Homo sapiens: one gene and its partners. The protein of the gene in region 1 interacts with the protein of each later gene in a pairwise test. Each region holds a gene or a part of one and is shown in the gene's direction. Other genes may lie near its edges.

What was found.
Region 2: the proteins of NDUFV2 (region 1) and ZNF19 interact in binary tests that used the Homo sapiens proteins (3 or more experiments, as listed by UniProt).
Region 3: the proteins of NDUFV2 (region 1) and SMARCB1 interact in binary tests that used the Homo sapiens proteins (3 or more experiments, as listed by UniProt).
Region 4: the proteins of NDUFV2 (region 1) and ZSCAN22 interact in binary tests that used the Homo sapiens proteins (3 or more experiments, as listed by UniProt).
Region 5: the proteins of NDUFV2 (region 1) and PLB1 interact in binary tests that used the Homo sapiens proteins (3 or more experiments, as listed by UniProt).
Region 6: the proteins of NDUFV2 (region 1) and API5 interact in binary tests that used the Homo sapiens proteins (3 or more experiments, as listed by UniProt).
Region 7: the proteins of NDUFV2 (region 1) and HSCB interact in binary tests that used the Homo sapiens proteins (3 or more experiments, as listed by UniProt).

Annotation. Positions count from the first base shown.
Region 1 is NC_000018.10:9,119,699-9,123,198, forward strand, and holds part of NDUFV2 (NADH dehydrogenase [ubiquinone] flavoprotein 2, mitochondrial precursor), read left to right. Parts: intron 1-1,566; exon of another isoform or gene 1,567-1,758; intron 1,759-2,814; coding exon 2,815-2,983; intron 2,984-3,500.
Region 2 is NC_000016.10:71,476,204-71,479,324, reverse strand, and holds part of ZNF19 (zinc finger protein 19), read left to right. Parts: intron 1-319; coding exon 320-446; intron 447-983; coding exon 984-1,097; intron 1,098-3,052; coding exon 3,053-3,121. UniProt on the Homo sapiens protein: May be involved in transcriptional regulation.
Region 3 is NC_000022.11:23,796,966-23,800,465, forward strand, and holds part of SMARCB1 (SWI/SNF-related matrix-associated actin-dependent regulator of chromatin subfamily B member 1), read left to right. Parts: intron 1-3,500.
Region 4 is NC_000019.10:58,325,823-58,329,793, forward strand, and holds the start of ZSCAN22 (zinc finger and SCAN domain-containing protein 22), read left to right. Parts: upstream 1-1,171; 5' UTR 1,172-1,292; exon of another isoform or gene 1,293-2,717; intron 2,718-3,971. UniProt on the Homo sapiens protein: May be involved in transcriptional regulation.
Region 5 is NC_000002.12:28,641,851-28,644,642, forward strand, and holds the end of PLB1 (phospholipase B1, membrane-associated isoform 1 precursor), read left to right. Parts: intron 1-1,007; coding exon 1,008-1,211; 3' UTR 1,212-2,292; downstream 2,293-2,792. UniProt on the Homo sapiens protein: Calcium-independent membrane-associated phospholipase that catalyzes complete diacylation of phospholipids by hydrolyzing both sn-1 and sn-2 fatty acyl chains attached to the glycerol backbone (phospholipase B activity).
Region 6 is NC_000011.10:43,314,996-43,318,495, forward strand, and holds part of API5 (apoptosis inhibitor 5), read left to right. Parts: intron 1-3,425; exon of another isoform or gene 3,426-3,487; intron 3,488-3,500. UniProt on the Homo sapiens protein: Antiapoptotic factor that may have a role in protein assembly. Negatively regulates ACIN1. By binding to ACIN1, it suppresses ACIN1 cleavage from CASP3 and ACIN1-mediated DNA fragmentation. Also known to efficiently suppress E2F1-induced apoptosis.
Region 7 is NC_000022.11:28,740,837-28,744,838, forward strand, and holds the start of HSCB (iron-sulfur cluster co-chaperone protein HscB isoform 1 precursor), read left to right. Parts: upstream 1-1,202; 5' UTR 1,203-1,259; coding exon 1,260-1,495; coding exon of another isoform or gene 1,496-1,544; intron 1,545-1,844; exon of another isoform or gene 1,845-1,892; intron 1,893-3,045; coding exon 3,046-3,142; intron 3,143-3,778; coding exon 3,779-3,868; coding exon of another isoform or gene 3,869-3,873; intron 3,874-4,002.

The DNA of each region.
Region 1 (3,500 bases):
GGAGCCCTTTAGCCATTTGTATGTTTCCTTGAATTGTCTTTGTGTTTTTGTTCATTCCCTTAATGCATAGAGGTGATTTCTAACCTTGCAGGAAATAAGGAAGGCATTATGGTGAAAGAGGGTATGTGTTTTTTTTTTTCCTTTTGAAGGAAATGGTCAAAGATAAAAGATTCCAAATGTGTATAACTTAGTGTCAAGATATTCTGAAAATTAATGTAATATTTAAACACTAGAATTACAGAAAAGAAGATCTGCTCACTAGTATGAAAATTTTTAATATTTTACATCTTTGGCTGTAGGCTGTAAGAAAAATCTGTATAATAGGTGATATTTATACAATTTGATTATGCTACTTTGGAATCAACGACCTATAGAAATGCTATGGATGACCCATTTTATTCAAAGTTACTCTATTCATATAATATTCATTTTTCCTAATAGTTTTGAGCAGTAATACAAATTTCAAGTTTATTCGTATCCTGTTAATACAAATAACTACATTTGTGTGGTGATGTATTACAGCATATCATTTATAAAGTGCCATACACAAACCACATACTATTTGATTCTGATGAGAATCACATAACCATTAAGCTGTGTTATATAATGGAAAATATTTTTGACTTAGAACTAAGACACCTGATTTTTCTCTGAACTTCCTCATTGGCAATGAAAGTTTTGAACCAGGTAGACCTCTTCTAATTATTAAGTTATGATTTCTGAGCGGTAGTGCTAGGACTGAATTCATTTCTAAATCAGTGCATTTTCTACTTGACTGACTATAACAGAGATTTTGTTGTACTTCATTCTTACCACTTTCTAAACTTAATTTGGTTATAACTCTTAGGCTAGACAATCATCTTTCTGAGAGAATAGGAATGTCCTCAATTTATCTAATAGAATCCTAAATGCAAATTTTAGATTTAGTTTATTGATATTTTATTTTATTTGCATTGTATAGTACTATAACACTGGTTTTTCCCTATGAAAAATATTATAAAGCAAGTTTAGTGAGTTACTATCCTGAGTAAACATAGGTGGTTATTTCTTCGATAAATTATGTATTTCTTGGGAAGTTACTTAACATTTTTTTAAATTAAAATAGCCAACTTTATAATGATTTAGGTATATGTTTCTAATTATAATGTTATTATTTTGAAAAAATCATATTTTTAGTAATGGTAAGCCTGTTGGAAATCTTGCTGAGTGGCACGTTAGCAGAGCAAAATAAAAATAAATAAGAAACTGAAAGTGAAAACATTTAAAAAATAAGACAGGCATGGTGGTGCATGCCTGTAGACCCAGGTACTCAGGATGTTGATGTGGGAGGATTGCTTGAGCTTAAGACCAGCCTGGGCAAGATGGTGAGACCCTATCTCTTAAAAAATATGTATTTATATATTGTCCTATTATATTTAGGGTTGGATTTGTGTGGGGGAAAGGCAGGAAGTGTAGGGTATAGGGAATAGACTCAAGATTCTTTGCACTTTACATTTGGGACTTTTATTTTAATGTTACTGCCCCTCCCCCCAACCCATGAAACACCTAACCTTACAACAAAAAATATCCAGAAGCTTAATAATTATTTATTTAACCGTCACTAAGGTGTAGGGAGATGTGCAGAATTCCAGGAAGGAGTCTTTTCCTAATTAGACAGTCAGAGCCTCATTCCAGATTTATTATTCCTTTGGTAGGGTTCCAGCATGTATATTTTGATAGAGAGCTCCCCAGATTCAGGGATACGTCCTTGATTCAGAACTGCCGAATGAAATAGCACAATTACTTTATCTGTCACAAGTGAGCCATGATTAGATGTCTTTTGAGAATATATTTCCTTTAGAATTCCTAATATGAGAAAGTTAACATACTTGTCTGAAATGCCCGCTCTTCTTTTATATTAGAATATGGATATATCTATAATTTTTAAGAATGCCAGATAGTAAGTCTTAATGATAATAGGTCACCTAGAAAGTTGTAGACAGAATTATAAATCACGATAGACAAGGACCAGCCCTGGCAAACAGCTAGAAATCCTCGTTTTCCCTAACAGACTTGCCCTAAGAAAAGATGCTGAGTTAGTGATCCCCTTAGTCCTGAACACCAGAATGTCAAAACAATTGTTTTCTATTAATGTCTTGACGTGAAGGGTTAGAAAGTACTAGACTATATGATTCAACTTTCAAAAGAGTATTGTGATATGAAATAGAAGTAGTGTGCTGGATTCTGGGAGAGGAGTGTGTGATTGTGTATGATAATATGTGTATACATATATGTAGAGATATAAAATTTTGAGTTTACATATTTAAAATATGGGCCAATAGTGAGCTTTGATTTTCAACCTTTTTTTCTGTTGCTGTACCATTTGTATGTAGGCTGTTTGGAAAAAATTGGTGAGAGTTTAAAAAATCTAATTGCTTCTTTTATTGGGGTTTGGCCATCAATTTTTTGCCATTTAGACAGATTATAAAATGTGAGTTGACATGATCAAAGTAGAAATTCTTAATAGTGAAATACTTAAAGATTTAGAGAAAAAGAATATCCTTTTACAGAGGTGAGAAGTAGGGTAGAAGGAGGAAGTGCTGTTAACTCCATTAACTTTCGGGCTCTGTATGGTTTAAGTGTAAGTACATTGTCTGCAAAAATTGAAGAGTTTATATCTCCCAGTTATCCAAGACAAGTATGTTTTCTGCTCTTGAAGAACTTTTCTGTTTTTACCAAATTGAGACAATATTGAAATTATACTTTGTACAACATAATTAAAGCTCCATTACTAACACTGTAATTATCTTATTTTTAAATGTCCTAATATTTTAGGTTGCAGAAGTTTTACAAGTACCTCCAATGAGAGTATATGAAGTAGCAACTTTTTATACAATGTATAATCGAAAGCCAGTTGGAAAGTATCACATTCAGGTCTGCACTACTACACCCTGCATGCTTCGAAACTCTGACAGCATACTGGAGGCCATTCAGAAAAAGCTTGGTAGGGAATACATGATATTTGTAACACTGATAAAAAGTAGAATTGTCTCTCTAGATTTGGTACATTTCTATCTAAAATTTCCAACTTCTGCCATCTTATTGGATCTGTACTTACCTAGTAATATTTTGTGTTACTGTGTTTCCACATCTTTATTTCTTCCTATTTGGTATTCTTCCTCAGTTCTTAGTGTTAAAGCTGAGTTTTTAATTTTTTCTTTTTTAATCAGTATGTTTGAAATGCTTGTAGAAGTTATAAAATATTCGTTGTTTAGAAGATTGTTTCACTTAGAAAATTGTTTCACTTACTATTCTATGACAGCATGTGGTATATTAAAAAGTGACCCATTATTGTCTTTATATTCTTCTAAAGAAGTCATGGAACAAATAAGATACAAGCATAGTAAGAATGCTTTGGGAAGGGAAATTTGAAACAGATGTTATTACAGTAGCATTTGAAAAGTAAATTAGCATTTTAAAAGTAAATGGGCATTTTCCCCTACAAAACTGCCATTGCTACA
Region 2 (3,121 bases), on another chromosome or scaffold:
TTACTAAATCAAAGAGATTTTTGCCCTAGGAAGGTTAACTAATAAGAGACTTTTTTTCCTAGGGTTTAAAAAATGTTAAATCACATTTTATGACAGTCAATTTTATATCCTAATGGAATCTCTTCTGGTAGTGAGAGAAGTTCCAGATTTTTCGTTGTAAAAATAGTCATATAATGGTCTAATATCCAGTTCTGTCACATTTTCTCATTACCTATCCCTCACAGGACTTTCCCTCAAGTCCCTACCTGTCCCCTCTGCCCCACACTCTGGCCCGGAGCCAGAGGATTGGCTCTGGGGCAGCAGGAACCTGTTGTTTTAGGAGATGGTGACCTTCGAGGATGTGGCTGTGCACTTCACCAAGACAGAATGGACTGGCCTTTCTCCTGCCCAGAGGGCCCTGTACAGAAGTGTGATGTTGGAGAATTTTGGGAACCTGACTGCTTTGGGTAAGGCCATTTTCCTCCTAGGACTCAGATCTGTACTTTTCCAGTTTCCTTCCTTCTTTTACAGCCTGGGGGGAGGAGTGTGGAGTGGAGAGGAGAGGTTGTCTCTTGTGTCCTCCACTGAGTGACTGCAGAGCTGAGGCTCAGTGACCAACTTCAAAGATTGCTGGGTAGGGAGAGGTCTTGGGTCACTTTGGTCTCCCAATGAAGGGAATTACTGTCCCCTGGTAAGAGTATGTTCCATCTTCCAAGAGGCTCTGCACAGTAAGGAATAAGTAGTAGTTGTTGTCTGGGGAAGGGCATGTCCCCTTCCCTGTGTTTGCTCATGCCTTGTGGATCTCACTGACTTACTTATCCTTGAGTGTTTTTTTTAGGAAGAAGTCACAAATGCTCAGTTTCCTGTTGATCGGAATCTCTTTGGCCTTCTCCAGTCGAGAACCCTCTTCTGTGGGTCTTATTCTTACTGAGACTCCTGGGGTTTTCCTTCTTTTGACACAGCAGATACAGGGCTGAAAAGTACCATTTTCTTCCTGTTTTCAGGGTACCCAGTTCCCAAACCTGCACTGATCTCACTTTTGGAGAGAGGGGACATGGCTTGGGGCCTGGAAGCACAGGATGATCCCCCAGCAGAGAGGACCAAAAACGTCTGTAAAGGTAGGTGAGGCAGATTTAGAACCAACAATTGTAGCGTTTTATGGAGCACTGTATTTTAAAATGAATCATGCTGGGCAGGATTTAAATAAAATAGATGATTTCACCTAATAGGTAAAATATGAAACGTTTCTCACCAATCTTAACTCTTACCAACATGTAATCACTCAGTACGTCTCATCTGCAATCCTTGAATCCATTGTTCCTTTCTGAGTTTCAACATTGCCTACCTTAGTTGTCCTCCTTGGTTGGGATGGATTTATTCAGGAGCAGTTTTTGAGCAACTTGCCATGTGCTGAACGTTGTTTAAGAAGTTCTGGCAGGTACAAGTTATGGAGACAGATGTAAAAAGCGAAAAAGAAAAGTATTAAGTGCTGTTGGGAGTGGGACGGAGAATGTGAAGGTAAAATGGGCCAGATCTTCCCAAAAGTTGGCCATAAATGGGGAGAGCTGAGTCAGATAACACTAGGAAGTCATGGCATGGGAGGAGCTTTTTGAATTCATAGGAATTCAGAGCTGAGCACAGGGCGTGAGGTGCCTTTAGAATAGGCAAGTGGATGGCTAGAGCAGGCCATTGAGAAGGTGGGTGGAGAGTCTGAGATAAAAGGCAGGTCTGAAACAGTACTCTAACACAGCTGGGTTGAAACGATCCCCAGGAAGAAAAAATGAAGGCTGAATCTTAACCATTAAGGGATATTTAATTTCAGTGAGAGAAGGAAGAGAAAGTAGACAGTCAAATAGATGGGGGCCACCAAGAGCAAACAGTGAAATTGAAGGCAGAGGCAGGAGTTTCAGTGCAGGTGGTTTGCAGAGAGCAAATACGTGGAAAATAATGAAGCTAGCACAGCACTTCAGCCTCTTATTCTAAGAATCTGAAAAAGAATCATCAAGACAATTGAGAACCTGTTGGTTTGTTCTCACACGCTTCCTCTGTCTGGTGATTATTCTTTTTCAGACTCTTGGTTACCTTGTTTACTTCAATCTCAGATTACTCTCCTCTGAACATTCTCCTTCGGAGTTCCCTTACTCCTTTAACTCACACTCATAGGATGAACTTGATTAACCATCACATGAGTCCCAGGTAACCCACATTAATGTTAAAACCAAGCCCATCATTTCATATAAAATGGATTGACTTTAACTCATTTAAAATGTCATCCAATCTTTTGGAACACAAATGCCATTTTATGGGCTGTTTGTCTCCTTTTTGCTGATAGGAGAAAGAATACTCTCAGTCTGGGTGTGTCTAAGTAAACTGTTCATCCCTTTTCAAATAGAGAGTCTAGGACAGTAGTTTCTCTGCATGTTTGAGGTTCAGCAGTTTTAGGGCGTTTCCTCATCGTCTATAGTCCATGTGTGGTTCTGCAGTTAAGAACCTCTGAACTAGGTAATCTTACAACATATTGGGAATAATACTCTCTAAGCACTTCTGTGATTTTCTTTCTCTCTGTCTTGCCACAACCCAGTGTCTGTAATGTTCAGTGTCTTAAGTCTTTTGGGACATCTGCAGGGTATGAGTTTTTAAAAAGAACAACAATTCATCCTTTGCCTTTGCTTTCTGATACTGTTCTGTTTCACTTTCTGATTCTAAGTCTTGCCAGCCCCGATGTCACTACTTGTTCTTAAGACCTGTGCCTTCTTTGGCATTTTGTAGGCTGTAAGTAGCATCAATTCAAAAGATACTAGCTCATGCCAGGGATGACCAGACATCATTCAAATATTAGAGTAGAAAAGCTTAGGAAGCAGTCTCGTGTGTTGTGTCCACTGATACCCTGTTCCACCTCAATGTTCTCTGCCTGTGTGATATTTGGCACTTTCACTTTAACAGCCTTTTCTTCCCAGCATGCTGATGTGAAAGTTGAAATGATCTCTTTTAAAGCCTTATCATTTTCAATGCTCTATTATTTCTAGTATAGTTCTCAGGTGGCATTATTTGTGTTTTCTATCTCTTATGTCAGATGTTGAGACCAACATTGACAGTGAGTCCACATTAATCCAGGGAATTTCTGAAGAAAGAGATGGGATGA
Region 3 (3,500 bases), on another chromosome or scaffold:
ATGCTGGGATTGCAATGGAAGGAAGGTTGTTTTTCTTTTTTTTTTTTTTTTTGAGACGGAGTCTCGCTGTCGCCCAGGCTGGAGTGCAGTGGCGCAATCTCGGCTCACTGCAGGCTCCGCCCCCTGGGGTTCACGCCATTCTCCTGCCTCAGCCTCCCGAGTAGCTGGGACTACAGGCGCCCGCCACCTCGCCCGGCTAATTTTTTGTGTTTTTAGTAGAGACGGGGTTTCACCGTGTTAGCCAGGATGGTCTTGATCTCCTGACCTCGTGATCCGCCCGCCTCGGCCTCCCAAAGTGCTGGGATTACAGGCGTGAGCCACCGGGCCTGGCCTGTTTTTTTTTATTATTATTATTTTTTTTGAGACGGAGTTTCGCTCTGTCGCCCAGGCTGGAGTGCAGTGGCGCCATCTTGGCTCACTGCAAGCTCCGCCTCCCAGGTTCACACCATTCTCCTGCCTCAGCCTCCCGAGTAGCTGGAACTACAGGTGTCTGTCACCACGCCCGTCTAATTTTTTTTGTATTTTTAGTAGAGATGGAGTTTTATTGTGTTAGCCAGGATGGTCTCGATTTCCTGACCTTGTGATCCGCCCACCTCGGCCTCCCAAAGTGCTGGGATTACAGACATGAGCCACTGCGCCTGGCCTTTTTTTTTTTTTTTTTTTTTTTTTTGAGATCGAGTTTCGCTCTGTCACCCAGGCTGGAGTGAAGTGGCGGGATCTCAGCTCACTGCAACCTCCCCTTCCCGGGTTCAAGTCATTCTCCTTCCTCAGCCTCCCAAGTAGCTGGGATTATAGGCACCAGGCACCACACCTAGCTAATTTTTCGTAGTTTTAGTAGAGACGGGGTTTCACCATGTTGGCCAGGCTGGTCTCGAACTCCTGACCTCAGGTGATCCGTCCGCCTCGGCCTCCCAAAGTGTCGGGGTTACAGGTGTGAACCACCACACCTGGCCAGAAGGTTGAATTTTATGGCTTAGATTTGCAGATTCTGTGTATGGCTGAGCATGTTACTCACATTCACTGTGTCTAGTGACACTTGCATTGTCCACTTGAGTTGATAGCTAGACCTGGAAATGAGAACTTGCTACTGAGATAGGGCAGGATGAGGGGGCAGGGGCTCAGCCCAGGCTCTAACGTATCCAGTCAGAAAAGAGGAGGTGGTCAAGATCTGTGGTTTGCAAATACAGGCTCAGCTACCTGGAAATCACCCGTGGAAGCTGCAAAGAACACATCTTCTTGGGCCCTTCCTCAGAGGTGGGAAGTCACTCCACCTGGGTGGGGCTCAGGAATGTGCTTCTTAAAATTTTGCATTCTGGGTTTGGGTGTTGTAGCTCACACCTGTACTCTCAGCACTTTGGGAGGCCAAGGTGGGAGGATTGCTTGAGCCCAGGAGTTTGAGACCAGCCTGGGCAACATAGTGAGACCCCACCATCTCTATAAAAATAAAAAAATTTAAAAATTGCACTCTGAGCGGCCAGGATTAGGAACTATGACCCAGATAGGTTGTAGAGGGGACCCCTGTCTTGCTGTCCCCTCTCATAGTCTCTGCCCAAGCTGATTCCATGTTCCCCAAATTGGGTACTACAAAATCCTCCCTACCCCTACCAGCGATCAAGGGGTAGTCCCAGCCTCAGCATCAGACGTGTAAGTGATTCCCACTTTAGAAGGGAAAAGAGTTAAAGGGCCCAGAGTCCAGGCAGGTCTTGGCCATTGCTTCTGCCCTCCCCCACCCTCTGGAAAGGAGAAGGACCTTTGTGCTGTCTTCCCGGGTCCCTCCTTAGAGGGAACTGTCAAACGTTTGTCGGCCGGGCGCGGTGACTGACGCTTGTAATCCCAGCACTTTGGGAGGCCGAGGCGGGCGGATCACAAGGTCAGGAGATCGAGACCATCCTGGCTAACAGGGTGAAACCCCGTCTCTACTAAAAATCAAAAAACTTAGCCGGGCGTGGTGGTGGGCGCCTGTAGTCCCAGCTACTCGGGAGGCTGAGGCAGGAGAATGGCGTGAACCCGGGAGGCAGACCTTGCATTGAGCCCAGATGGCGCCACTGTACTCCAGCCCAGGCGACAGAGCGAGACTCCATCTCAAAAAAAAAAAAAAAAAAAGTTTGTCATGACTTGCTCTGAATGGTTGAATAGTTATTGTGGAAGTGGTTGCGCAGGTGTTGGGGTTACACAGGGAAGTGACACACAGTCGCTGCCTGCTCCTGCTCACAGCCTTGCCAGGGAAAATGGAAAAGCACAGAGCACAACGGGCACCCAAATGCTCTCATCTGTTTCACCCAGCCCTGGAGCCTTAGTTTAAAACAGCTTTTGGTATTTTTTTTTTTTTTTCGAGATAGGATGTTGCTCTCTCGCCCAGGCTGGAGTGCAGTGGTTGATCCCGGCTCACTGCAACCTCCGCCTCCTGGGTTCAAGTGATTCTCATGCTTCAGCCTCCTGAGTAGCTGGATTATAGACGTGTGCCACCACGCCTGGCTAACTTTTGTATTTTTGGTAGGGTTGAGGTTTCACCATGTTGGCCAGGCTGGTTTCGAACTCACCTTTTGGTTTTTTTTTTTTTTTTTGAGATGGAGTTTCGCTCTTGTTGCCCAGGCTGGACTGCAATGGTGTAATCTCGGCTCACTGCAACTTCTGCCTCCTGGGTTCAAGTGATTCTCCTGCCTCTGCCTCCTGAGTAGCTGAGATTACAGGTTCCTGCCATCACACCTGGCTAATTTTTTTTTTTTTTTTTTTTTTTGAGACGGAGTCTTGCTCTGTCTCCCACTCTGGAGTGCAGTGGCGCAATGTTGGCTCACTGCAAGCTCTGCCTCCCGGGTTCACGCCATTCTCCTGCCTCAGCCTCCTGAGTAGCTGGGACTGCAGGCGCCTGCCACCACGCCCGGCTAATTTTTTGTATTTTTAGTAGAGACGGGCTTTCACCATGTTGGCCAGGCTGGTCTTGATCTCCTGACCTCGTGATCTGCCCGCGTCGGCCTCCCAAAGTGCTGGGATTACAGGCGTGAGCCACCGCGCCCGGCTACACCTGGCTAATTTTAGTATTTTTAGTAGAGACAGGGTTTCACCATGTTGGCCAGGCTGGTCTTGATCTCCTGACCTCAGGTGATCCATCCGCCTTGGCCTCCCAAAGTGCTGGGATTACAGGCGTGAGCCACCGCACCTGGCCTGGTTTCGAACTCTTGACCTCAGGTGGTCTGCCCATCTTGACCTTCCAAAGTGCTGGAGCTACAGGCATGAGCCACTGCACCTGGTGCTTTTGGTAAAAGCAACCTGGAATTTGGGAGAAAAGATCAAACGCTTCATGGGACATGGGTTATTTAAATTACCTTGGATGTCACCTCTGGAAGGTATTTATCAACCCATCTTCTCAACTTCTACTGCTGTGGAAGCTGAGAGGCCAGAGGCCTTGCCTAGTCCATCTCAGGATGGCTGGTATGTCTAAAATGACAGCCTGATCATGTCTCTTCCTTCAAAACCCTGGGGACTCCCAGCCACCTGCTGAG
Region 4 (3,971 bases), on another chromosome or scaffold:
ACACACACGCAGAGTAAGCACACAGAACAACCCACAAACCTGGTCACAGAGTGACTCATGCAGACAGACGCCCAGCTCAAATTCAGTAAAAAATGATACACATTTATAAAAATGATTACATGTGTTCACAGAGAGCCACACATAGCTACACTCAATACACACCCTGACATAGGCAACCACACCGCTCACCTCTCACAAAGGCACCTTCAGTACTTACACAGACACTCACACCCACAAGCCCTCAGACAGGCACCCTCTCCCCTCACTCCTAACATGGGCACCCTCACCTCTCACCCAGGTACCCTTGTTACTGGTGGAGGGTGTCCAGGTTCTTGGCATCTTGAACAAATAATTGGACAAAATGCACAAAGAAAAGAATGAAGCAACAAAAGCAGAGATGTATTGAAAATGAAAGTACACTCCACTGTATGGGAGCAGGCCGGAGCATAGGGGCTCAAGAGCCCGGTTACAGAATTTTCTGGGGTTTAAATACCCTCTAGAGGTTTCCATTGGTTACTTGGTATATGCCCTATGTAAATGAAGAGGACGAAGTAAAGTTACAAAGTGATTTACTCCATGTACGCCCTGCATAAATGGAGAGGATATTTCCTACCATAGCTGCAGTTTCCATTTGATTTACTTCTAGGAAGTCCTTAGGTTCCCTGCCTCCAGACCCGATTTTCTTGCCTCACCCTTACCCCTCACCCCTCACACAAACACCCTCAGCCCTCCCAAAGCCACCCTCAGCCTCACACAGCCGCCCTCACCCTCAGCCTCACACAGGCACCCTCAGCTCTCACACAGGCACCCTCAGCCCTCACACAGCCGCCCTCACCCTCAGCCTCACACAGGCACCCTCAGCCTCACACAGGCACCCTCAGCTCTCACACAGGCACCCTCAGCCCTCAGCCCTCACACAGCCGCCCTCACCCTCACCCTCACACAGGCACCCTCAGCCTCACACAGGCACTCTCACCCTCAGCCTTCACATTTCCCTCACCTCCAAGTCCCGCCTTTCGCGCATCGCCTGCTGCTCTCCCACTCAGCGCCACCTCAGTCCCACAAAGGCCGGGCTGGGATCCTGTGGCCTCCGTGCTGACCAACGTCAACTACAATTCCCAGCAGGCACCGCGCCTGGGTACACTTGAGCTTCCGGAGGACGCCGGGAATTGTAGTCCTGGCGGGCGTGGGCCCTTGAGGTGTGCTGGGAGCTGTGGTCCGGGTCGGCGGGCGCGCAAGTTGGCTAGTCTCTGCGGCCACCTCCGGAAGGGTCCGCCGGCTGTGCTGGTGAGGTGGGTTTCGGGGGTGTTCTCCGTCCTGATCCAGGCTGGAGAGGGGCACAGCAGGTCCAGAAGCCGCGAACCTCTGGGGCGGCCAGAGCGAGATGCGGGGTACCGCCCAGCGGGTAGAGAGTGAGAGGCTGACTAGGGGACGTGAGTAGACGGACTGCGAGTGCCGGACACACGCGCAGAGGATGTGACGGACTGACGGACCAGGCGTGGACGGACCGTGTGTGCACGGACTGACGGACCCGGTGTGGACAGACTCACGGACCGAATGTGGTGCGGAATGACACACTGAGTGCCGGACGGACCGACGGAGAATGTGTCGGACTGACGGAGTGTGTGTCGGATGGACTGATTGACCGGGTGTGGGGCGGACGAAGTGTGGAGCGGGCGGACAGATAACAGATAAAATGTAGGACCAGTGGCCTGGGAGGGTGTGGGGCGGACCCGTTTATGTGTCTGATAGGCGGTTCTGTGTCTGACACCTCTTGGGTGTGTGTATCTGACGGGTTGGAGTGTGTGATTCTGATAGGTTGAGTGTAACACTAACCATGGAGTGTGTGACTGACAGAGATGGTTGCCGTTTGAGACTTCCTACGTGGGTTGTGAGATACTGTGAGAGGGTGAGCGTGTGACGGTGGGATTTCAAGTGTGACTGATTTTCTTTGTGTGTCCTTGAGATGGTGACTAAGATTATGAATGACTGTGATCAGAATAATACTGTGTGATGGAAATGCTGCGAGGGCCTGTGTTTATTTTTGAGACGGAGTCTTGCTCTGTTGCCCAGGCTGGAGTGCAGTGGCGCAATCTCGGCTCACTGCAACCTCCATCTCCCGGGTTCAAGCGATTATCCTGCGTCAGCCTCCCGAGTAGCTGGGATTACAGGCACCGGCCACCACACTTGGCTAATTTTTGTATTTTTGGTAGAGACGGGCTTTCACCATGTTGGTTAGGCTGGCCCGGAACTCCTGACCTCAGGTGATCCACCTGCCTAGGCCTCCCAAAGTGCTGGGATTATAGGCATGAGCCACCATGCCTGGCCAGGCCTGTGTTTATTTGACTGATTATAGGTGACATTGAGATATTTCCTGTGTCTGGGTATTTTGAAGGCTGTGGCTGACAGACTGTACCTGAGATAATATGTGTTAATATCTGATTGACTGAGATTTTTATCAGGGAGACTAAAACTTGGGTGATCCACAAACAGTTTACCAAGCATATGAGAGAGGATTTGTGCTTTGCCATGTCTGCAGCTGAAACTGAGTGACTAGTGGTCATTCAGCTGGGCTTATGGATATGTCCCCCAGTGTTTGCTTACGTGTAGCAGGGGGCTATGGTATCCATACATCTACTGCATGTTTACTGTGCACCAGGCCTGTGCTGGACACTTATAATAAATCACCTCACATAATCTCATAGCAACCCTCTGAGGTAGGTACCATTATCAGGCTTGGTATAATCCATGTGTGAGAAATGAAAAGAACCACCCTCCTTGGTTGGTAAAGCAGCTGTGGATGGGGAACCTCAACCTGATAGGAGTTGAGGTTGGCTGAGGAGGCTGAGGAAGTTTCACATACATGTATTTCAGAGACCGTCATGAGGGATTTCTCCAGAACAGGTGTTCCAGGGGTGCAAAAGAGAACTTGGAAGCTGTTGCAGCATCTATTGTCATCCCTGCCACCCTTGCTCCTCCTTCCCCTCATGATTCCCTACATTCTTGGGTAACCATGCTCAGCCTTTACTGGTCATTCCATTTGCTTAATGCCTGCTTATTGTGAACCTGCTATAGGGCAAGTCCTGTGTGCTGTGGCTCCAGGACAGCCCAGCCTCTCTGAGGAAACAGTACAGAACTAGCAAAGAGTTACCCAGGGCACTCTGGGAAGAGGACTTAGACTAGTACCAGGTATCTGGGATGACACCTGAGGAAAGTGGCAGCTAAGATGAGGCCTAGAGAGCCCAGAGGAATCCGTCAGAGACGGATTTCAGAACTCGAGAGCAGCAGGGGCGACAAGGGGCTTAGAAAGGCCACAAGAGACCCAGGAGAACTTTACAGTGCGGCGAAGGGGCTTAAACGCAGCTTGGCCAGAGGCCACCAGAGGTCACCAGCGGTCACCAAAAGGTTTCAGGATTGGGGTCTTGTTTTAGAGTAACGTTCTCTTCTTCCTGTGCCCAAGGCCATTGCTCTTTCTCAGGCCTCCTGCATCTCTGTCCAGGGTGACTTCCTTGAGCAGAGACTCCAGGCACACTGAGCGTCCTGGCTGACATTGAAGGAAAGGAAAAAGAACTCCAAATACTTAAAACTGTGGGAGTCGTGGATGGGAGAGGGAGAGGCTAAGTCTTTGAGTAAGGAGTAGTATGTGGCCAAAGCAAAGTGTCGAGGTCTCCTAGGAGAGGTTACACTTAATTTAGGGTATTCTTCCTGACTATAAGAGAAAACAAATTCACTGTGGGAAGTAGAGAATGTCAAGAAAAGTAATACAGTAGTCACCCCTCATCTTCAGTTTTGGTGAATATAGTACAATAAAATATTTTGAGAGAGAGAGAAAGACCACATTAATATAGCTTTTATTACAGTGTATTGTTATAATTGTTCTATTTTATTAGTCATTGTTGTTAATTTCTTACTATGCCTAACTTATGAACTTTATCAAGGGTATATAATAAGAAAAAAATATAGAATATATA
Region 5 (2,792 bases), on another chromosome or scaffold:
ATAACTTGCCCCATCAAGGCTGCTTGAAATCCTTGCCTGATCCCTACTGCCCATTGACCAGAGTCTGGAGGGAGGGTCACCTCCCTCCATGATACACACTGCACTCCTGGCCGGTGGATCCATCTCCCAGGAAGCCCCACGACTGCCCGCATCCAGGCCTTTCCTTTTGCCATCTGTTCCTGGAGGTTCATCTTCCATCTGCTATGAGAACATCCGCCTCCCTCCAGGTCCAGATGTTGCCTTTACTAAGCGATGGTTTCACCGTCTCTTACCTACCATTCCTGTCTCCAGACACTGACCCATGTGGGTCTCCTTTTCTATTTGTACCTCTCATGAGACACCGACCCAGTCTCCTTTATGATGTGATTGTTTCTGCACATCTCAACTTCCTCCTGGGCCACAAGAAAAGATGTCACATCTTAACCCTCCAGTCTCATCACAGCTTCCAGCAAGGGGGCTAAACACAGCACGTGCCCAATTCACATTCACTGAGAGGAGAGTGGAGAGGGGCATAGGAAGGCAAGAACGCACACGATCTGCCCACATGCCTCCCCTCCCGGCCCTTCTGATTTGGGGATCTTTCATCTACTACAAAACCAGCTGTCCTTCCATGCTGCCCTTCCCTGATTTCTGGGTAGTCCTGGGATGGGAGAATGGGGACAGTTGTGACCACGAGGAAGCAGAGGTGGGAGTTCTACAGGCCCCACAGGGCTCTCTGCCATTGGTCACCTATCAGTTCCCAATCTTTCAAAATCAGGTTTGATGGCCAAGGAAACGCTGGTGAGAAACCAAAAGAAGGTTCTAGCTGGGTGTTGACCTCTTTAGAGGCCCATCCCGCTAAAGAGGGTTTGGGCACAGCCTAAATGAGGGAGCTTTACAAAAGGGAAGCTCTGTGAAAACGTGCAGGGTTATCGCAGCATCTCAGGAATGGGGACTAGGCAAGTCTTGGCTTGGTGATGGATGGTTCACGGAGATCCTTTCCACTGACCCCCGCTCCTCCTCCACAGGAGAGCCCTTACCTCTACACCCTGCGGAACAGCCGATTGCTCCCAGACCAGGCTGAAGAAGCCCCCGAGGTGCTCTACTGGGCTGTCCCAGTGGCAGCGGGAGTCGGCCTTGTGGTGGGCATCATCGGGACAGTGGTCTGGAGGTGCAGGAGAGGTGGCCGGAGGGAAGATCCTCCAATGAGCCTGCGCACTGTGGCCCTCTAGGCCCGGGGGTGGGTCCTCACCCTAAACTCCCTATAGCCACTCTCTTCACCGCCCTCTGCCCCAGCCACTCCCGGCCACCAGGACATGCTTCAATGCCTGGTGCCATAGGAAGCCCAGGGGACAGTCACAACTTCTTGGGGCCTGGGCTTCTTCCAGGCCTATGCTCCTGGAATGGATACATTTAAATAAAGTCCAAAGCTATTTTATTCCTGGGTTTGCCTGCGTGAAGCACTCACCTTCCATCTCTTGTGCAGCCCAGGTGTGGGAGCTGCCACTTTTTGTGGCCTGCCTCCAGCAGGGCTGCCCAAGCCACGACCAACCAGAGCCCAAACTGCCTGCCACCACGAGCATATCCTCAAGTCACCAAACCCACTATTTCAAAGGCAGAAAAAATGCTGGTCACCAGGTGGTGGCTGGAATTTTGGAGCTGGCTGGTTGCCATTCAGTCCAATCCAACACATACCTATTAAGCAACTGTTTTGTATCCAGGACAATGCGAAGCACTGAGGTGCCTCCTAGGCTGTGCATGTCGCAGCCTGGCAGAGAGGTCAAACTCCTTCAATAACCAAGAAGCCACGTGATGATGTGTAACTACTAGGGCATCAGTAGGTAAATGTGTCTGATTGTTTTAAAGAATAGAAAGGGTTCTTCGGGGAAAGTTTCTTGGGGGAGAGCAACCTTCACATGTCATTTTGGGAAAAGGAATAAAAAATGATTGGGACACAAATACCTCCTATATTCTCAACCTGATTTTCTCAAGGTGCTAAATTTAGGAAAAAATTCCTATTTCTATATGCCCAGGTTTCTGAGGGAAAACTAGAGAGAGTCTGAAAATATGGGCTGCATTCACTGAGCCCCTGCTAGGGGCGAGGCCCCGTGCTGGAGGCCTTCCACAGATGGTCTCTTTTATGCTGCACAAAAGCCCAGGGAGGGGGTAAAGGGAAAATCTTTGAAAATAGAAGTGATGCTTGCGCAACACCGTGAATGTACTAAACGCCGCAAATTGTTCCATTTAAAATGATTAATTGTGTATCATGTGAATTTCACTTCAATAAAAAAGAATCCAGGGAGGTAGACATCATCTGCATTGTAAACCTCTCTCTGATCCTGAAGTCCGGGATGATAAAGAGCCTGAGTCACAATCCCGGATGCAACACTGAAATGCTGTGCCCTGAAGCTGCCTTCGCCAGCCTGAGCCCAGTGTCCCAGGCTCTGCATCTGTAAAAACTGGAGTAAGAGTACACATTTTGCTTATCTCACGGCGCTGCTGAAAAATAAGGAACCGTGTGTGAACCTCTAACTCTAAAATGCTGCACAACTGAAAATGGCCTTTTTCCTCGGTGAAGAGTTGGGATAAGGCCCAGACTGTTGGGGAAGATGTGAGACCCAGAGATGAGTTTGGGGAAATGGGGTAATAACATATGGGTGGAGAGTGCCCGCCTTCCTCTCAGGGAGGTTCATCACCTTATCTCTTTCTGTCACAACAGAGAACCCGGAGGACCTATACCCAGTTCCGTGTTCTTCTGGGCTTCAGTGTCTGTTTCTATACAATGGGAACAGCATGCATTCCCCTGCTTTTTC
Region 6 (3,500 bases), on another chromosome or scaffold:
TTATGATCAGTACTAAGTTTCCTGGCAAATACCTGTCTGGATACTTCTGAGACTGCATTCAAGTTTGTCAGTCTTGACTTCCTTCTAACTTTTACTTTGATTATCAACCTTTACCAGAGAGGTGAGCACTACAGGTGTTCTGATTGCTGCCACTACAGACTATTCCCTCCCCATTATTGTCAATACTCCTTTCAGAGTAGTGCCTTCTAAATATATAAGGGTAAACTTACAAGCCGTCTGAGGTTTTATCGGCTAATTTCCCCAAAGCAGATCAAATCCTCTTTTTGAACCCCTTGGTACGATGTACTTACTAATAATGCTTCAGACTTGTATTTTATTTTATTTATTTCTGTACTTAAATTATAACGTCTCAAGGGTTAAATCCTTTTATGTATTTATTTATTTATTTATTTATTGCTTCTCTTCTTGCACTGTACCTTGCCCTTCAGTAAGCATTTCTTTTTCATAGTTGAAGAAATGTATTGGAAGAAGGAACAGAGAAACCATTTACAAAAGAAAAGAAAAACCATTTACACAGATTATCTCTAATGGATAAAGGGAACTTTATCATACACACACACATACATACATATATGAGCATGTATATTCTAATAAGCAAACTGCAGATGACAAATTCTAAGTGCAGAATTATTTAATACCTCAAATCTTCCAGTCCTATCATCTTCTCATGTAACTGCCATGTTCTGCCTATGCGTTCATCCTGCCTTTCCCCCACTCTGCCTCTGCTACTCCTTCAGGTCTCACTCTTCTCTTGTGTGCTCCTTTACCTTTCTGATCTCCTTTTCCACTGTACTCTGCCCAGGGCTCCTGACTAGCCATAATAGAGCAAGCTGTGGCCCACCATTATTTAAAATTCTGTTTCAAATTATTATGAATTTACTTACTTTAAATATAGATACTTAATTTTATATTATGTAGTCAAAATCTTAAAAGTTAAAAAATGTATCCGACACCTGTTAAAGGACCATGGCAGTGGGGCTGATTAGATCTGTATAATGCTGAAACCCTGATTCCTCCTGTTCTCTCAATCATTGAGTATACTAGCTTTGCAGGGTTGGCGTGTAGGCTTCTTGGACTTTTATTTCATGAAATAACCACTCTTGTAGTAGGGTTTTTTGTATGATTAAGCTAAAACCACTGACCAACCAAGTTCGTAATCCCTCAAAAATATGTGGAAATATTTATTTCACTTCTCTGAGCCCTAGTTTCCTCATCTAAAAGATAAGAATAGTAGTAACACCTATTGTGATATAGACAAGGAATCACTCAGTCCCTGGTAGACCTTCAATAAATATTGTTAATGATTCCTTTTTATTTGATTCCAGATTTAATATTTTTTTCTTGGCAAAAGGAAGTTTTGTTTTAAGCAGGGTTTTTTTTTTTTCATTTAATTTTGGACAGTGTAAGGAGTTTCTTCAAATGGCTTTATGAGTAAGTTTGAGTTAAAGAAAATTAGATTTGTGATACCCTGCAAAAAGTAAGGGTGTCAGAACAAACTTTGATTTTATGAAGCCTGCCTAGAAGTCTGAGGCAAACCACAGGAATGTAAAGTGGTAGAGAAGTCAGCATGATTTCTTTTTTTAATGTTTGCGGTGAAAAGTATGTCATATACCTTTCTTTCTTTGAGACAGGGTCTTGCTCTGTCAGGCTGGAGTGCAGTGGCGCGACCACAGCTTACCACAGCCTCTAACTCCTGGGCGCGACCATGGCTTACCACAGCCTTTATCGCCTGGGCTCAAGTGATTCTCCTCCCTCAGCCTCTCCAGTAGCTGGGACTGCAAGCACACACCACCATGCCTGGTTAATTTTATATTTTTTGGAGAGACAGGGTCTTGATGTGTTTATAATACACTTTTCAGTGATGACTCCTGAAGACTCATATATCTGCATTTCATGAAGAAGTTAACCTTATTCACAGAAATTTCTGTTATTTGGGAGTTGTTCTGTAACTTTGCATCCTGCTTTATTTTTTCACTTAACATAGCATTATCAACAAAAAAGAATCACTGTAAAATAAATTTGGTAATTCTGTAGTTCATTGGATATTTATTGGTCATTCCCCGCTTGATGGCATGAAGTAAGCTCATGTGTCTAAAGCACTTAGAACACTCCTTATACATAATAAATACTATACTGTGTATATGTTTGGTCAAGATTATAATTTTTAAGTTGTTTTTCCAGTTACTAAGTTTTATTCATATGTCCAAACAATATATATGTGTAGTCTTTCTGTATTTGTTACTGTTATTTACCATCTTTATCAGTGTCATTTCATAAAAGGACTGGTTTGGAGGCAAGTACTTAAGGAGGATTGGGAACTTATTGATTCCTCCCATTATGAGTATTTGAGGGAGAGCACCTGTGATTTTTTTTTTTAAGGAAACATGAGCTTTGAGTGTATTGTTCCAATAAAAGGTTTAAACATGTGACATTAGAGTCCGTCTTAATCCAAAATTGTCTGGCTATATGGAGTGAATTGTCATGGCTTTCATATACTGCTATGAGGTAAAATTAAACTGCACTTCCTAACATTGCTGGAATTGCTAAATTTCTGGAATGTATTCCCTTCACCTTCTTCAAGGTGCTAATTAGAAACAGGTAAATTTTTGTTTAAGTAAATACAGTGCAATTCTTTGTGAATTCTATGGTATTCATGATGATTTATTTATTTACTTGTTTAAGATAGAGTCTCATTCTGTCACCCAATCTGGAATGCAGTGGTGCGATCTCAGCTCAGTGCAACCTCTGCCTCCTGGGTTCAAGCGATTCTCCTGCCTCAGCCTCCTGAGGAGCTGGGATTACAAATGTCTGCCACCACACCCAGTTAATTTTTGTATTTTTAGAGAGAGGGAGTTTCACCATGTTGGGCAGGCTGGTCTGGAACTCCTGAGCTCAAGTGATTGCCCACCTCGGCCTCCCAAAGTGTTGAGATTACAGGCATGAGCCACCACACCTGGCCATCATTACAATTGTTTTGTTTGTTTGTTTGTTTTGTTTTGTTTTGTTTTTTGGAGACAGAGTCTCACTCTGTCATCCAGGCTGGAGTGCAGTAGTACGATCTCAGCTCACTGCAACCTCCGCTTCCCGGACTCAAGCAATTCTCCTGCCTCAGCCTCCCGAGTAGCCGGGATTACAGGCGCACACCACCACGCCTGGCTAATTTTTGTGTTTTAGTAGAGACGGGGTTTAACCATGTTGGCCAAGCTAGTCTTGAACTCCTGACCTCAGGTGATCCACCCACCTTGGCCTCCCAAGGTGCTGGGATTACAGGCGTGAGCCACCACGCCTGGCCCATTACAAATTTTTTAAGCATGATACAGTCACATGGCCAGAGTTAATAATCACTAGAATGAAGAAGTATTGGCATATTAACAAACACATTTGCTTTTTCCACTTAAAATTAGACTCATCCATCTCCCCCAACTCAAAAATGAAACAAAGATGGAGGGAGAACGGAATTGGGAAGGTAAGTGTCAGTT
Region 7 (4,002 bases), on another chromosome or scaffold:
GAGAAGAGTATTGTGATTCCTCAAAAAATTGAAAATAGGCCGGGCGCGGTGGCTCACACCTGTAATCCCAGCACTTTGGGAGGCCAAGGCAGGTGGATCACCTGAGGTCAGGAGTTCGGGATCAGCCTGGCCAACATGGTGAAACCTCGTCTCTACTAAAAATACTAGCCGGGCATGGTGGCGGGTACCTATAATCCCAGATACTTAGGAGGCTGAGGCAGGAGAATCGCTTGAACCCAGGAGGCAGAAGTTGCAGTGAGCCCAGATCGCGCCACTGCACTCCAGCCTGGCAACAGAGAGAGACTCCGTCTCAAAAAAAAAAAAAAAAAAAAAAAAGGTACAGATGGTAATCATATATGTATACTTTATATCAAAAATAAATAATTTTTTTTAAAAATTCCAGAGGTCTTTCAAGTGAAACACAATATTTTTTTCAAGCAGAAAACCTAAGTCCGAAGGAGGACTGATGCCCTCCTACCCACTTCTGGCCACCCTATCCCATACATTTACTTAGGGACTTATTTAGGGACACGCAGAACATCCTCCTACACAGCTCAGTGCGTTTCCAGTCCCTGCAGCGCCCAGTAGCTAAGACTGGCTTCTCTATAAGTATTTTATAGATTGAACCTAAAGAATGGCAACGATTTCTAACATCTATAGAATTTTTACGAAGTCACTTCGCTCTGATATTGAAGAATACAACGCTGTTCTTCTTATCCTGTATGTTCAGGCCTGTTTCAGCTTGCAAGTAATACGGGAAGTGAACTTCACCTCGAGGATGATCTACTGAAAAGGAAGAGAGTCGCCCACACACTCCCCCTTCAGCTCAAAACTACAGACAAAGCGAAGCTCAGGAGACTCCGTTCGCACAAAACGCTTAAGATGGGATTCGAACCACCAAACACCCAACAGAAGTTCCCCATATGACTCACCGCGTGAGCCCACCTGGAGCCGCACACTCTCCGCAGCCTCAGCCAGCAGAGTGGCGCTAAACCTGCAGATACAAACTCCACCCTCAGCCAATCAAAACCCCCTCCCCTGCCGCCGGACCAATGAGGAGCAGCAGATGTGGCCGTCAGGCGCCGCCTCAATGCCTCCTGGGAGTTGTAGTTTAGAAGGGAGAGCGGAACTTAGAACCCGGGTTCCCCTCGGGTGATCCCGCCCCCTCGACTCCCCAGCCAATCAGCAACATTAGTCTGGTTAGACGCTCTCTTTGCTTTTCCCCACGAGTGACCACGGCTAGATAGGCCGCCGGCCAGATGTGGCGGGGGAGAGCCGGGGCTTTGCTCCGGGTGTGGGGGTTTTGGCCGACAGGGGTTCCCAGAAGGAGACCGCTAAGCTGCGATGCTGCGTCGCAGGCGGGAAGCAATTATCCCCGCTGTTGGAACTGCGGCGGCCCATGGGGCCCCGGGCGGGAGGACAGGTTCTTCTGCCCACAGTGCCGAGCGCTGCAGGCACCTGACCCCACTCGAGACTACTTCAGCCTTATGGACTGGTACGAGCGACGGTTTCGGGAAACGGGCCCGGGCGAGAGACACGTCGAGGTCTGGCCTGCGAGAGGGGAGGACGGATCTGGCTGGCGGAAGAGAAGGCGGGACTGATGGGGGGGCGGAGGTCTAGAGAGCAGGCGTGAGAGAAGTGTCTTGATTTCTCAGGAGGAAATTGAGAGGCGGGGACTGAGGGAAGCAACGTTGAGGTGTGGAGAAGGGAGACGAACGGGACTGGAGGGGCGGGCGCTGAAGTTAGAGGAAATAGGGGGGCCGAGGCTAGAGGGGAGGGAGATTTGAGGGGCGGTACCTACGGGAAAGGGAAGGAGAAGTCGAGGGGCGGAACTTGAGGAAAGGGTACTTGAGGGGCAGGGCCTGGGAGACTGGAAGACTTGAATGAATAGGGTGAGTAAGGTTTAAAGTTGGGTTGATGTATTTAAGAAAGGACTGCAGAAGTGTGATCCGAGATTAGGGAGTAAAGCATGAAAAGCTTAATATTGTGGGCGAGGCCTGAGGGAAAAGTGAGAATTGGAGGGAGAGGGTCCAATAAATGGTTTTTCCCCCTGAGACTGAGGTTCTTGGAGAGACGGGGCAGTGTGGATAGAGCTGAACTGGTAAGGAAATAGGACAGACTCTGGGAGTAGAATGTGAAAGGGGCTGAATTAAAATAAACCGGGAGAGACAGGGATGAAGGGACCTGGGCCGTGGAAAAGTTAGGGTGGTATTAAAGAAAACATGATTCAGTCACACTTGTTCAAGCACCAGAAAGACTTTCTTCAAGACCATCTTGTAGAGGGGCCACTGCAATAGGGTCTTGCAGTTGGGGAGAGAGATTGGTCTCAACTCCAAAAAGGGCATGGGCAGAAGGAAATTTGTAGCCAAGGAGCAGAGTAAACGGGATTCTGGCTAAGCCGACCTAACGGGATTCTTGCTGAAGACAGGCCAGGCTGCTTAGACACCACCTGGGGGATAGTAGAGGATGAAGAATCTGATCAGAGATCTAGGATGATCAAAAATATGAGGATCGAGGATTCTAGCTAAACTGACTTGGCAAGATTATTTGCCAAAACTGTATTTTACAAGAAAGCATACATCTGGGCCTAGGAGAAGGTTCAGAAATCTGACTAAAGTTTGGCCAGGCAAAGAATCTTTGTCTGTGTAATTTAGGAATGTCCCTTTTCCTTAACTATGGGATCTTCCCCACCAGTCACTGAACATGTATGAGGGGCTACAGTAACGCTGATCTTTAAGTTCCTCAGGCATCCCCATCTTGCTCCCACCTCGAGGTCCTTGCTCTTGCAATTCTACCTGGACGTCTCTTTCCTCTGATCTTTGATTACTCATCATCATTCAGGTTTCAGCTGAGTGTCATCTCTTTGTCCACTACATCTGCTACACTCTCTGACTCTGTTCTGTGTCCCTTCATAGGACTTACCACTTTTTGAAATTAACTGCTTATATGTTATTGCATCTTCCCCATAAGAGCAAGAACCAGGCTCATGGTAGATAAACCTTTAAATATTTGTTGTATAAATTTAATCTCCCAATTTCCTTCCAGCAACCGTTCCTTCAGAGTTGATACAGCGAAGCTCCAGCACAGGTACCAGCAACTGCAGCGTCTTGTCCACCCAGATTTCTTCAGCCAGAGGTCTCAGGTAGCTTATTGGCCAACCCCAATAATCCCCAAATATGTGTGCACACTGGGTGGCAGTAGCCTTGTGGTTATGTGATTATCAGGGACTGAGCTGGAAAATCAGCTGTGTCTGCCCCATGGCAGTCTGACCCCAGCCTGTCAGACCCAGAGCTGCCATTCACTCACAGCTTTTGTCTGACTTCCCAGATAACTTAAAACCTATCAGCTGAATATAAAGACACCTCATCCCACACCAGCTCTACTTAACCACTTCCTTAGGTGCCTGCCCATTAGAATATTATAAAACTTTGTGGGCCTGGCACAGTGACTCACGCCTGTAATCCCAACACTTTGGGAGGCCGAGGCAGGCAGATCACTTGAAGTCAGGAGTTCAAGACCAGCCTGGCCAACAGGGTGAAACCCTGTCTCTACTAAAAATATAAAAATTAGCCCAGTGCAGTGACACATGCTTGTAGTCCCAGCTTCTTGGGAGGCTAAGGCAGGAGGATCACTTGAACGTGGGAGGTGGAGGTTGCAGTGAGCTGAGTTCGCGCCACTGCACACTCCAGCCTGGATGACTCAACGTCAAAACAAAAACAAAAACAAAAAAACTTTGTGATTTGGATGGTAATAGTACTATCTTCATCTCCACTAACAGACTGAAAAGGACTTCTCAGAGAAGCATTCGACCCTGGTGAATGATGCCTATAAGACCCTCCTGGCCCCCCTGAGCAGAGGACTGTACCTTGTAAGGTGATTTCCCAACACTTCTGTGTATGACGTCCTGATGCCCATTATGGCGTAGGACAGCCACGTCCCCTTTATTCAGCAGAAGAGTGCTTGAGGTCAGGCATGGTGGCTCACACCTGTAATCCCAGAACT